Linked DNA regions of Homo sapiens. The protein of the gene in region 2 purifies or fractionates together with the protein of the main gene of each other region. This does not show direct contact. Each region holds a gene or a part of one and is shown on either strand. Other genes may lie near its edges.

Region 1 (7,033 bases), on a different chromosome or scaffold from region 2:
TACTTTCCACAAACTCCTGTCCCCACAGCTGCTGTTGGTAAAGAGTGGGGGAGCCATTGGTATGAGGTTCCTGGTAACCTGTTTCCCCGTTATAAATATTCGTAATGCCCTCTGTTCTTTAGAGGTATCCCTTTTGGAGATTAAATCTTATGGTTACCTCAGATCATGGATTCTCAATGAGTATGATATTGCCCTGAAGTGGGAGAAAATTGGTTCTCGGGAGGGTGGAAGGAATTTTACTCCTTTTATGCATAAGACACAATTATACATACAGTACATGAGCAGACATACAGTGCATCTGTGATGTTAAGATTTTGCTGGGGAGGCTATTAGGGAAAAAAATCTTAAAAGCCTTCTTGTGGGGCAATAATGAAAAAAGATACAGAAACACTTCTTTAGATGAAGGGAGCTGGCAGCAGCCTATAGAGTTGAGAAAAAGGGGGAAAGAGATTCTACAGATTCTAAAAGAAAAACTGGCTGTCATTTTCAAGAGAGGTTGGCTCTCTTGAGATATGACCTCCTGTTCTCACGTGAGTTCCCCAAGAAGGTTCCTGCCAAGCCCAGCTTTATCGATTGTGAAAACCCAGAGAGGTCTCGCCGCTCGCTCACAAGGGCTTTGTTTGGGAGCTTAGCTTGGGAGACACTGCTGCTTTCTAAGTTTGACAGCACTGGAAGTCTTTGTCCATTAATGCCAGGACCCTGAGTTTGTTTCTGTCTGAACTGAATCTCTTAGGACTAGGCTTCTGTATCACTGGATGATGTTTCTAACTTTTTTTTTTTTTCGAGACAGGGTCTTGCTCTGTCACTTAGGTTGGAGTACAGTGGTGCGATCATAGCTCACTGCAGCCTCTACCTCCTGGGCTCAAGTGAGCCTCCCACCTCAGCCTCCTGAGGAGCTGGGAATACAGGTGCATGCCACCATGCCCAGCTAATTTTTGTATTTTTAGTAGAGACGGGGTTTCACCATGTTGGCCAGGATGGTCTTGATCTCTTGACCTCGTGACCCGCCAGCCTTGGCCTCCCAAAGTGCTGGGATTACAGGCGCGAGCCACCATGACTGGCCTGTTTCTAACTTTTTATTTTTAAAAAGTGTACCCATTAATTTCTAGACATTAAACACACCTATGTTGCCAGCACCCAGATGGGTAAAAAACAGAATACTACCAAACCCTCCCAGTTGTTACACTCAAGATAGTCGCTGTCCCAACCCCACCGCTGTGGTTTGATCTGCTTTTGAACTTTGTCTAAACGGGATCCGAGGTCGGGTACTCTTGTGTGTGGTTTCTTTTGTGCAACATTGTGCCTCTGAGCCTCACCCGTGTTGCTGCATGTAGTTGGTAGTGGTAGGTTTTGCTTTCTCAGCATGTTGGTGTCTTCCCACTGTGTGGCCACAGTGTCTGTTCACCTGTCTGCCCTAAGATGTGTTGCTCAGCCAGGCACAGTGGCTCACGCCTGTAATCCCAGCACCCTGGGAGGCCGAGGCGGGAGGATCTCGTAAGCTCGGAGTTTGAGACCAGCTTGGACAACACGGCTAAACCTCATCTCTACAAAAGATACAAAAATTAGCCGAGCCTGGTGGCATACACCTGTAGTCCCAGCTCCTCAGGAGGCCGAGGTGGGAGGCTCACTTGAGCCCAGGAGGTAGAGGTTGCAGTGAGCTATGATCGCACCACTGTACTCCAACCTAAGTGACAGAGCGAGACCCTGTCTCAAAAAAAAAAAGTGTTGTTCCTTTTTGATGCTAAATTCTTTTTCCACGTCTAATACCTGGTACCTGCCGCCTCCTCCCAGGTGTAAGCCCCCGACAACCTGAGTTTCTCCCTCTACTTGGCCTTGCATCTGATTAAGGCACTGAAATAGGAAATAAAGAAATGAACAAGACTCATATCATCAGAGAATGCTGTGGATTGGAGCTTCTAAGTTACCTGAAATGCGGAAACTCTGTTACCAATGTCCCTTTATAATTGGGAAATAGGCCAGGCGCAGTGGCTCACGCCTGGAATCCTAGAACTTTGGGAGGCTGAGGTGGATGGATCACTTGAAGTCAGGAGTTCGAGGCCAACATGGTGAAACCCCGTCTCTACTGATATATGTATATATGCCGGGAGTGGTGGCACCTGAGGTCAGGAGTTTAAGACCAGCCTGGCCAAAATGGCAAAACCCTGTCTCTACTAAAAAGACAAAATTAGCTGGGCATGGTGGTACATGCCGGTAGTCCCAGCTACTCAGGAGGCTGAGGCAGGAGAATCGCCTGAACCTGGGAGGCGGAGGTTGCAGTGAGCCGAGATCGAGCCACTGCACTCCAGCCTGGGCAACAGAGGGAGGCTCTGTATCCAAAAAAAAAAAAAAAAAAAGGGAACTCGTGTGCCTGTGTTTTTGGAAAGTTGTCTATGCAGCTGTGCTAAAACACCAGAAGCAGATTGCAGCTGATTGTACCCGGGTACAGCATCACTCCAGCCCACTTAGAGCAGAAACCCAGTTTTGGAAACAACACTGCTCTTGCCCCCTGCCCCAGCTCACTGGAGCTGGTGTCTCCCCTCGGCAGCCGTTCACTGGGGCTTTCCCCAGTCCTGCCCCCTGGGCTCTTTCCCTTTTGACACTGCAGTCTGGGGTTGTGTGTATCTCCGTCTAAGCATGGTAGGGCCAGCACCCTCACCAGCGTGGAGACAGCCAGGGTCCCCGGGTGGCAGATAGCCGCCTCATGCCCTCATATGCGTCTCTCAGGCCGCTAAGCCTGTACTATGACTTGATCACCGCCACTGTAGTACTTTTTAATTTCCTTCCTTCAGCTCACACCCAAGAGGGGCCTCCAGTCAATGTCTGTAGAAGCACTGACCATTCCTGCATAATTAGAAGCTGAGGCCTAGCACGGTGGCTTATACCTGTAATCCCAGCACATTGGGAGGCTGAGGCAGGAGGATCGTTTGAACTCAGGAGCTGAAGACCAGCCTGGGCAATGTAGTGAGACCCCATTTCTACAAAAAATAAAAGTAAAAAATAGCTGGATATGGTGGCACACACCTGTAGTCCCAGCTGCCAAGGAAGCTGAAGTGGAGGGATTGCTTGAGACTAGTTTTGTTTTGTTTTGTTTTGTTTTGTTTTGTTTTGTTTTGTTTTGTTTTGTTTTGTTTTTGAGATGGCGTTTTGTTCGTGTTGCCCAGGCTGGAGTGCAGTGGCTCACTGCAACCTCCGCCTCCGGAGTGCAAGTGATTCTCCTGCGTCAGCCTCCTGAGTAGCTAGGATGACAGGCGCCCGCCACCACAACCAGCTAATTTTGTATTTTTACTAGAGACGGGGTTTCACCATGTTGGTCAGGCTGGTCTCGAACTCCTGACCTCAGGTGACCTGCCCACCTCGGCCTCCCAAAGTACTGGGATTCCAGGCATGAGCCACCACGCCCGGCTGAGCCTAGGAGTTTCAGGCCGCAGTGATCTCTGATCTACTGTTGCATGCCAGCCTGGGAAACAGAGCAAGACCCTGTTTCTAAAAATGAGAAAAAATTTAAAAGCCCGGTGTAGGCCAGCCTGGCTCTCTTTGTGGGTAACCAGGATAAATAGAGATCTCCACGTGTGTGACCTGTGAACTGAAAAGCCAGCCTGGAATGGAAGAGCGGGAGAGCCCGTCCTCTGAACTCAGAAGGAAATGCCAAGTCGGATCTGTCTGGCATCCTCCACAGGCTGTGAGAATGTGGCCTGCTCCTGTAGCATGGACAGAGAAGTTGCTGTTGGAATTGACTGGATGTGGAAATACCACAGGGAAATAAAGTGTCTCAATGACAAACGCATGTATGGCAACAAAAAGAAGATTTGAAAGGGAAGAAAAAAATAAAACCCACTGCTGTAGGACACATGTTAAGAAGCAACTTTTAAGAATTCAGAGCCTGGGCAGTTTAGGGAGACGTTGTCCCTGCAAATTATAAAAATCAGACAGGCGTGGTAGCGTGTGCCTGTAGTCCCAGTTACTCAGGAGGCTAAGGCGGAAGAATCACTTGAGCCCAGGAGGTCAAGGGCGACATAGTGAGACCTCGTCTCTACAAAAAAATTTTAAAATTAGCCAGGCATGGTGGCACACACCCGTAGTCCCAGCTACTCAGGAGGCTGAGGTGGGAGAATCACTTGAGCCCAGGAGGTCAAGGGTGCAGTGAGCCGAGATTGTGCCACTGCACTCCAGCCTGGGCAACAGAGTGAGACCCTGTCTCAAAAAAAAAAAAAAAAAAGTCGAACCACATAGCTGCTAATACCTAATAGCCCTCGGTCAGTTTTCTTCCTCCAACCACATTTCCCCTCTTCAGGCTAGTGCCCAGCCAGTTCTTCACCTCAGTCACCCTGGAATAGACCAGCTATCTATGTGATAGTTTTCAGTTACCTGTTTCTCCCTATGTTGAATTCATTTATTTATTTATTTAGAGACAGGGTTTCTTTTTGTCGTCCAGGCTGGAGTGCAGTGGCACAATCATGGCTCACTGCAGCCTCAAGCTCCTGGGCTTGAGCGATCCTCCTGCCTCAGCCTCCTGAGCAGCTGGGACTACAGGCGAATGCCACCACGCCCACCTAATTTTTAAATATTTTGTTAAGACAGGAATCTCGCTATGTTGCCCAGGTTGGTCTCGAACTTCCTGGCCTCAAGTGATTCTCCCGTCTCAGTCTCACAAAGCATTGAGATTACAGGCATGAGCCACCATGCCTGGCTTGAATTGTTGTGTTGTTTGGTTTTGGGTTTTTTTGGTTTGTTTTTTGTTTTTTCTTGTTTGTTTTGTTTTGTTTGTTTGTTTTTTGTTTTTTGAGACGGAGTTCTTGCTCTGTCTCCCAGGCTGGAGTGTAGTGGTGTGCTCTTGGCTCACTGCAACCTCCATCTCCTGGGTTCAAGCAATTCTCCTGCCTCAGCCTCCTGAGTAGCTAGGATTACAGGCACACGCCACCATGCCTGGCTAAATTTTGTATTTTTAGTAGAGACAGGGTTTCACCATGTTGGCCAGGCTGCTCTCAAACTCCAGTAGCCGGGCTGTCGTCCCAGCTACTCAGGAGGCTGAGGCAGGAGAATCACTTGAACCCGGGAGGCAGAGGTTGCAGTGAGCTGAGGTTGTGCCACTGCACTCCAGCCTGGGCGACAGAGCAAGGCTCTGTGTCAAAAAAAAAAAAAGAAAGAAAGAAAGAAAGAAGTTATATTAATAAGAGAAGGAAAAAAAAAACCACGATACACAGGCATACTCAGAAACACCTGTACTTCCTGCAGTGCCCTCTGATGCAGCATTTTATTTCCTGTTTTCTTCAGTTTCATTTTGTTGAAAATGCTGGTCAGGACCCACTGGGTTGGACCAGGGCCGAGCAGGCTGCTGCGCCGTTTCTAATGTGTCTTCTCTGTCCAGGTATACCGCTGGGCCGACCACTCAAGCACGGTGCTGCAGCGGCTGAACGAGCAGCGTCTCCGCGGGCTCTTCTGCGACGTCGTCCTGGTGGCCGATGAGCAGCGTGTGCCAGCCCATCGCAACCTGCTGGCCGTGTGCAGCGACTACTTCAACTCCATGTTCACCATCGGCATGCGGGAAGCTTTCCAGAAGGAGGTGGAGCTGATCGGCGCCTCCTACATTGGGCTCAAGGCCGTGGTGGACTTCCTGTACGGCGGGGAGCTGGTGCTGGATGGCGGCAACATTGACTACGTCCTGGAGACGGCTCACCTGCTGCAGATCTGGACGGTGGTAGACTTCTGCTGTGAGTACCTGGAGCAGGAGGTGAGCGAGGACAACTACCTGTACCTGCAGGAGCTGGCCTCCATCTACAGCCTCAAGCGGCTTGATGCCTTCATCGATGGCTTCATCCTGAACCACTTCGGCACGCTGTCCTTTACGCCCGACTTCCTGCAGAACGTCTCCATGCAGAAGCTGTGTGTCTACCTGAGCAGCAGCGAGGTGCAGCGGGAGTGTGAGCACGACCTCCTGCAGGCCGCCCTGCAGTGGCTGACGCAGCAGCCCGAGCGCGAGGCCCACGCCCGCCAGGTGCTGGAGAACATCCACTTCCCGCTCATCCCCAAGAACGACCTGCTGCACCGCGTCAAGCCGGCCGTGTGCTCGCTGCTGCCCAAGGAGGCCAACTGCGAGGGCTTCATCGAGGAGGCCGTGCGCTACCACAACAACCTGGCGGCCCAGCCCGTCATGCAGACCAAGCGCACGGCGCTGCGCACCAACCAGGAGCGCCTGCTGTTTGTGGGCGGCGAGGTCTCCGAGCGGTGTCTGGAGCTCAGTGACGACACCTGCTACCTGGACGCCAAGAGCGAGCAGTGGGTCAAAGAGACGCCGCTGCCCGCCCGGCGGAGCCACCACTGTGTCGCGGTGCTGGGGGGCTTCATCTTCATCGCCGGCGGCAGCTTCTCACGGGACAACGGAGGGGATGCGGCCTCCAATCTTCTTTATAGGTATGACCCCCGCTGTAAACAGTGGATCAAGGTGAGATTAAAGCCAGATTATTTCTTTTCTCTTGAGGACTCTCTCGGTTTCCTTAACCTAGCCTTGACTTTCCTTACCTCTCTGGGGCCTTGACAACTATCCTGCTTCTGAATGAGGTGTGATGATAAAGTGACGAGCAGAATACCCCGGGGCCTACATCCTGGACAGGGAGAGGGAGAGCCGACCCACCCCTTCGAGGGGTCCGTCATCGTTCAGAGCAGCACTGCCTGGCGGGGCTTTCTGTGCAGATGGAAGGGTCTGTCTGTACTTCCCGATACGGTAGCCACAGCCGCATGTGGCGACTGAGCACTTGAAATGTGGCCAGTGCGACTGAAGAAGTCAATTTTCAATTTTATTTCACTTTAACCGATTGACGTGTAAGTGTATGTGGCCGCACGAGGCGTGGCTACCCTATTGGACAGTAGCATGGGTCTAGATGTTTGATCCATGGTTCAACATCCCCAGGTCCTGGAGTCTCTGTGGGGCTCCTCTGGAAGCATTTTGGGAGATAGTTTAAGGAGACCACTAGTGCTCACGCCTGGCCCTTGGGCATGTATTGTGTCCTGATTCTGGGAAGAGCGTGGGCCTTGATGT
Region 2 (7,033 bases):
ATTTGTAGATTTAAATTTTTCAAAATGTAGAAGAACATGATTAAAATAAAATACATGCAATTCAGTGAAAACATTGGTTAGTGAGATGGCTTGGTATAAAATAAATATAAAAATATTTATTAGGAAAATGTATACCTATAAGCATGGAATGATAAATTATATTACTATAAGTGAAGACTGTTATACAATGATCATTATTTGCTAGTGAGTTATATGATCATTTCCAACTCAAAATGATGTTCGACTTTACATCTTATTAAAAGGTCATTTGGAAGATTAAACCGGTAAAATGTTAAAATTTAAAATAAACATTCTGGGAATTAACAGGATAAATTAGCCCCACCAATTTCTAAAACATATTACCAAGTTGTGGTTTAATTACCACAATAATTAAAACTGTGGACATTCGTTAAAAATTCCTCTCAAATATCTCTATTATGTAGAATTATGAAACACACAAAAAGAAAAAGAACACACAAAGCAATGGGGAATAAAATATTACATAATAAATGTCTTTGGGAAAATTGAGTAGCCATCTAGAAAATAGTTTTCTGAGATCTTCCCCATCATACTATGTACCCAGATGTTCTCAACCCCTAATTAAAGACTAATTAAATCAACCCCAGAACACTTAGAAGAATTAAATGGGAATCTTTCAAGTGATTACAATTTGCAATCTGAGAACTACAGCCTTAGATGTTTGCAACCCCCTCATTTGTATCATGAATAGGTTTCAGAGGTGCTGAGATCCTGACCCTCAACACTGGCAGATGAGGAGGTAGACAGCAGGCAAGGTCCGGGAAGTCAAAAGCCCCTTAGGCAGGCCACAGGAGGAGCTAGAATAGGCACATTCAAGCACAGCAGGTGGCAGTATTAATAAAACCTTGATTGGGGTTTTAAGATTGATAAGCTCTCTGACCCAGTACATCTACTTCAGAAATTGTATTTCAAGGAAATACTGTAAAATACAGAAAAAACTTTTTATAGAAAGATACTAATTTCAACCCTATGTATACACTAATAGTAAATACTTGAAAACAACCTAAGTGAAAGACAAAGTAAATTATGACAAATTCAAAGCATAGAATTTTATGAAGCCTTTTAAATGCTTATGAGCTTTCAACAACATGTAAAATATTAGCATATTAGAAGGAATCCATAAAATTCCATATAAGGTATTATAATTATGTACATTGCAATCTATACAAACATACAGGTAGGTATATACACTCTATATGCTCTCAAAATATATAAAATATATATGCAATCTAAATAATTTTTAACATGTATATAATGAATAGAACTTACAACATAATTATTTATGGCAAAAAAAAAAAGGCAGAAAATAAGATTGAAAACCACAGTAGCTGGGAGCCTGGTCTCTCTCAGCCTTTGCACACTCCCCTAGGTCCTTCTCAACTGTTATATTTCACCAAACATGATTCCCTTCAGGAAACTTTCCTGGACTCAGACCCTCTCAGGTCGTTCAGCTCTGTGCTCTTATCATATTACACATTTTCTCCCTGCCAACTACAAAAACGCAGCTATCTTGCTCCCATCATGAAATGAACTGAGAACAATAACTAAAATATATACAATCTACACATTTCTGTGAGCACTGTAAATTCCATTTCCAGATCAAATTGGACCACCGAAAGTCTACGTACATGTACTACAACAATTTAATATCAGGCAAAATCCAATTTGCCAAGATACATTTTAATAACGTGTACTTAGCTCTCACTGAAATCTTTTGTGGATGATATTTTCACTGCATTTCTTGCAAAAGATAAAAATGTAGATATGGTATGTTGCATGTATTTAAAATGTGACATGACCAATTTCTCAGAGAGTTCAGTGTAGAGAAAGCTTCAGTTCCCTATAGGGATTGATGGGCTTCTCCTTTTGTGATAATGAGATGTGTATAATGTTCTCCTTTCAGCAACAGATGCCAAGAAGCTCAGAATTAAATTTGAACATCCATTGATAAATATACTGACTCTTATGAATGACAAAATTGATGCTTCTTTTCTTGAGCCCAAGCTTTCTACTTTAATTACACTTTATTTTATTATTTCTCTGTTGTTTATTCTATTTCATTTCCAATCGCTCCAATTTATTTTCCAAGTCATGTGTCTTAATGTATATGTATTTCACTGTGAGCTAGTTGAAACTGGTTGAGGAAACATTATGAAGAAATACACAAGTATGTTTGAGGTAAACATTTTTCTTCACAAAGTATGTAACTTTAAAAAGAGCAATAAAAGCCATTATTGAGAATGGAAAGGAAACTCACAGAGTGGGTAACTGTAGTTGCAATACATACAATACTAGACAAGTGCCTCATATCATTTAGAATATAGATGGAAAAAAGTACTACAAATAAATAAAAAACCAAATCAAGCCAAGAGAAAAACAGTCAAAAGTCTTAAAAAGACACTTCAATAAAGAGTATATCCAAATGGACAGTAAATATATGAAGAAGTTGTTAACTTCATTAGTCACAATAAAATTAATATTCAAATGACAAGGATATAACATTACATACCTACTGGAATACTTAAAATGCAAAATAAAGAAAATATTAATTATTGGTGAGACTGTAGCACAAACAGCACTCTCATATAGCACTGGAAAGAGTTTAAATTTGAAAAATCAGTTGGGAAAACAGCTTTAGTTTAGTTACTAAAGCCAAACAAGCATGACTTAGGGTCCAGCAATTCCACTCCCAGAAATATGTCCTTGGTCATGCGTAGATACTTTCTCCAAAAAAAGTGTAAAAATTTTCCTAGCAGTGCTATTTGTAACAGTTCTAAATTGGAGGTCACACAAATACCCATCGAGGAAGCGATGGATAAATAAATTATGGTATATCCAAGAAAATACTAGACAGGGATAAACATGAAGGATTTACTTACAACTATAGTTGTATGCAATAATGTGGGTGAATCTCACAAACAGAATGTTGATGAAAGAAACTGGACACAAAACAATTACATACTTTATGATTCCATGTATAGAAGTACAAAAACAGGTGAAACTAGTCTGTTGGCCAAAGTCAGAAGAAGGTTAGCATGTGGGAATGTTGGGTAGTGACTACAAAGAGACAGATGGGGTTCTGTGGTGTTGACAATGTTTCTGGATTTGGGTGTTGGTTGTATCAGTGTGTTTGGTTTGATATTCACCAAGTGATTCACTTACAATATGTGAGAGAACTGTTGTAAGAAAAACCTAGAAATCTAGGTTCCAGTCCTTGCTCTATCCTTTAATAAGTATCTCTAAACAACCACAAAATAGTAAATTGTTTGAGATTTATACATTAAGTGGAAAAACACAGTCTACTCTGCCTTTTCATAAGATTGGTTGGAAAAGCCAAATGGAATGAAGATCACTAGCCCTATTATATATGAAAGAATAAATATATGACATTAAGTAATCAATTATTAATAAAGTTACTTGAAATAATAAAAACAGCACTGATATATTATTTAAATTGGATAGGAATTCCTAAATTTGATAGGAAGATGTTTGATATAATTTAATTTAAGTATATAAAGGGTAATGTAACAATTCTCTGGCCATTTAGGGAAAATAAGTCAAAATTTATACCTTCCAAAATCAAAATGACTTAAGGTGAAGCAAACTTTCAAAATAAAAAATTAAAAGTAAAACAGAATCCAGGAAAAAAAGACTGAATTTTTTCTCATCATCTTAGACAGGAAAAAGCTTTTCTAAGCCAAACCACTTTAACTTTTTTCAATGAACATGTGTAACTTTTATGATACTGCATAAAACAGCTGCAAATTATTCTCATTTCTAGATTTAATATCTATATAACATCATTGGCATTTTCTTTGGAGCCACTGATTTGAAGATGATTGTCTAATTATAGTATAAAATATAGTCTTTCATTAATTCAACTGATCAAAATAAGATAAATGGCAGCTACTATGTGCCATAAATTTTTCTTGAGGTGAGGATGCAGCAATGGGTGAAATAAACAAATTCCTGCCCTTCTGGGGCTTACTCTCTGGTAGAAGAAAAACACAGGCTCAACTAAATTAATATTAGAGGGAAAAATATAAAACAGGGAAGGGAGATGGGAGTGCTGGAGCAGGGATGGAAGGGATTGTTAAGGGTCTGAAGTTTAAAATAGAGTGGTCAGGAAGAGGCTCACTAAATAGCTAATTTTTAAACAGAAATTTGAAGCATCAAGAGATGAGGACACACAGGGTAAAATGCATTTCAGGCAGAGGAAACAGGAAGGGCAAAGGCGTGGCACTAACTGAGTTCCGGAGGCAGGGCCAGCAGAGTTGCATAAAGCAGCAAGGGTGGGCAGATCACACAGGGCCTTCCCAATAGAGGAAGCTTAGCTTTTACTCTGAGTGAGGCAGGGAGCCACCTGAGGGGTTGAGGTGACGAATGCCATGATTCGGCCTTCTCAAGTTTTAAAGGGAGCTTCTGGGCTCCACAATTAGAGAGGATGGCTTAAAAAAATTCAAAATAGAGACAAATAACAATTATAATAAGAAAGTAGGAGAATATGAGATAAGAAGAAAGGGTAGAATTGCTTTCCTTCATTCATCAAATATTTATTGAATACACTGTTAGGTTCTGGTTAAGATTAAAAAGTGACTTAGATGTGGATACTGCCCTCACGGAGAATTTACATAAGGAGATAAAACATGAGCAGAAATGACCATAATACAAAGTAGAACACAATGAATAAAGGATAACTTTCTATGTGGGTGACAGGAAGGGAGAATTAAAGAAGTCTTCTTAAAGCAGTTGGCATTTTGCTGGCCACAAAAATATAAGCTTCTTGACAGCATGTGTTCTGTCTTTTGCTGACTGCTAAATTCCTAGCATTTAAAACAGTGCTTTGCACATAGTCTGTGATCAATAGATATGTGTTACCTGATGATAGAATGAATTTGTATATGCAGATATGTAGGGAGAAGGGTGTTCGAGCAAAGGGAACAACATAAACAGAAACACAAAAATAAAGAATATGAGTTTATTTCCTTGGTTCAGATTGACTGAAGCAAATGAGAACAGTGGGAGATGAAATTTTAGAACACAGAATGGGATTAGATCACACAAGACCTTGCTGGCCCTGGGGAAGTATCTTGACTTTTTTTCTATAAGAATTGGGAAGCTCCAAAAGCTCTGAATAGTGATAGGAGCAGAACATTGTACCAGAAAGATTAGTGTAATTGTACTGATAATTGATTGAGGGAGTCAACCAATTGATAGGTGGATGATATTGTACAAGCCTAGACAAAAGGTGATGAGGGCACCCATTAGTTCATCGCCACTTGGTCCCTTCATCATTAGTACTTCTCTGCCAGAGACATCTGTTTATTTGTATTGTAATTATTTTACTTGTCTCTCTCCTTTTCTTCACTAATAATGTAGCACATTTAGCACTGGAGCTAGACACTTCTAATTATCCCCCAATATTCCTTGGCTACAGTAATAAAACATTGTGAGTTTGAGCCGGACACAGAGCTACCAGTTAAAGACTACATGTCCCAGCCTCTCTTGCAACTAGCTGTGGCCATAAGACTAGGTTTTGGCAATGGATTTGAGCAGGAGTGAGGATTGCTGTTTCTGGGACATGCCCTCATAGTGAAGCTGTTTGCTCTTCATTTCTTCCTGCCTCATTCTTGCAGATTGCTCCATACCCATTTTTCTCTCCTCCACCTGAAGTAGGTGTTGGAGATGATGCCCTTTTGGAACTACATAGCTTCCTTCATCCTTTTCCTGAGGAGACAGGTACGTGGGCTTGGGAGTTGCTTCATGGGTCAAGCTTTCATAGGCTTTTGCAAAAAGGGAAAATGTAGGTGTATTTATTACTAGGTTCTGGCCAGTTGGATGAGAATGAAAGTGGGGTGCTGTGTCTGGGTCATGCACATAATGGGAAGCTCTCTGCTTCCACTTTCCTCCTTCTTGAGGGCAGGTATTTGACCCTGGTGGTCTCGAGCCCCCCTTGTCTCAGGTGTCATTTTACAGGATGCAAAGAACAAACATGCTCCTATGCCCCTGCACCTGCCTCATGGGGAATGCTGCCCAACCTCCTGGGATTGCCTACAAAATTGAACTTCTATTATGAGAGAAACAACTTCCATCTTAATTAAGCTATTGTTATTTGGTCAGTGTTACAGAAGCCAAATTAATATTTTAATATATAATTTATAAATATTGATGATTACCACTACGTGTTAAATGAGCACATGATTGGTAAATATAAAACACACTATACATGTAAAGTATAGGTTGAACTATCCCTTATCTGAAATGCTTGGGACCAGAAGTGTTTTGGATTTGTTTTTGTTTTTTGTTCAAATTTGGAATACAGTCATCCCTCAGTCTCCATGAGGAATTGTTTCCAGGACCTCCTGCAGATACCAAAATCTTCAGATGCTCAAGTCCCTGATATAACATGGCGTAGTATTTGTATGTAACCTACACATTTCTACCTATATACTTTAAATCATGTCTATATTACTTATAATATCTAAAACAATATAAATGCTCCATAAATAGTTGCTATGCTCTATTGTTTAGGGAATAATGACTCAAAAAAAAAAGTCTGTACATGTTCAATACAGATAAAATTTTTATCCCAAACATTTCAATCCAAGGTTAGTTGAATCCATGGAGGCAGAATCTGTACAAAGAGCTGACTATATCTGTATTATATACTGATGGTCACGCCAGTTCTGAAAATCTGAAATCCAAAATGCTCAAAAGAGTTTTCTTTGAGTGTAATGTCAACACTCAAAAAGTTTTGTATTTTGGACCACTTCAGGTTTCAGACTTTTGGAATAGGAATACTCAACCTTTAATATTAAAAAAATTATTTATTCCATTCCCCTAAACTTTGAGCATAAAGCATCTATAGTCTTTTGAGAAGGAAAGCTGTAATAGAAAGCTTAGGCTGAACTCAACTTCTCTGTCACCATAACCCTGGGTCGATTTTCTAACTTGCTTCGTGATAAGCTTGTTCAGCACAGAAAGTATCTGACAA

What was found. Proteins that work in one complex are often made in the same cells at the same time.
Region 1: the proteins of PACRG (region 2) and KLHL36 purify together in Homo sapiens (affinity purification with mass spectrometry; 3 studies listed by BioGRID and IntAct, with this or other methods). This does not show direct contact.

Annotation. Positions count from the first base shown.
Region 1 is NC_000016.10:84,651,506-84,658,538, forward strand, and holds part of KLHL36 (kelch-like protein 36), read left to right. Parts: intron 1-5,365; coding exon 5,366-6,439; intron 6,440-7,033.
Region 2 is NC_000006.12:162,730,955-162,737,987, reverse strand, and holds part of PACRG (parkin coregulated gene protein), read right to left. Parts: intron 1-7,033. UniProt on the Homo sapiens protein: Microtubule inner protein (MIP) part of the dynein-decorated doublet microtubules (DMTs) in cilia axoneme, which is required for motile cilia beating. Suppresses cell death induced by accumulation of unfolded Pael receptor (Pael-R, a substrate of Parkin).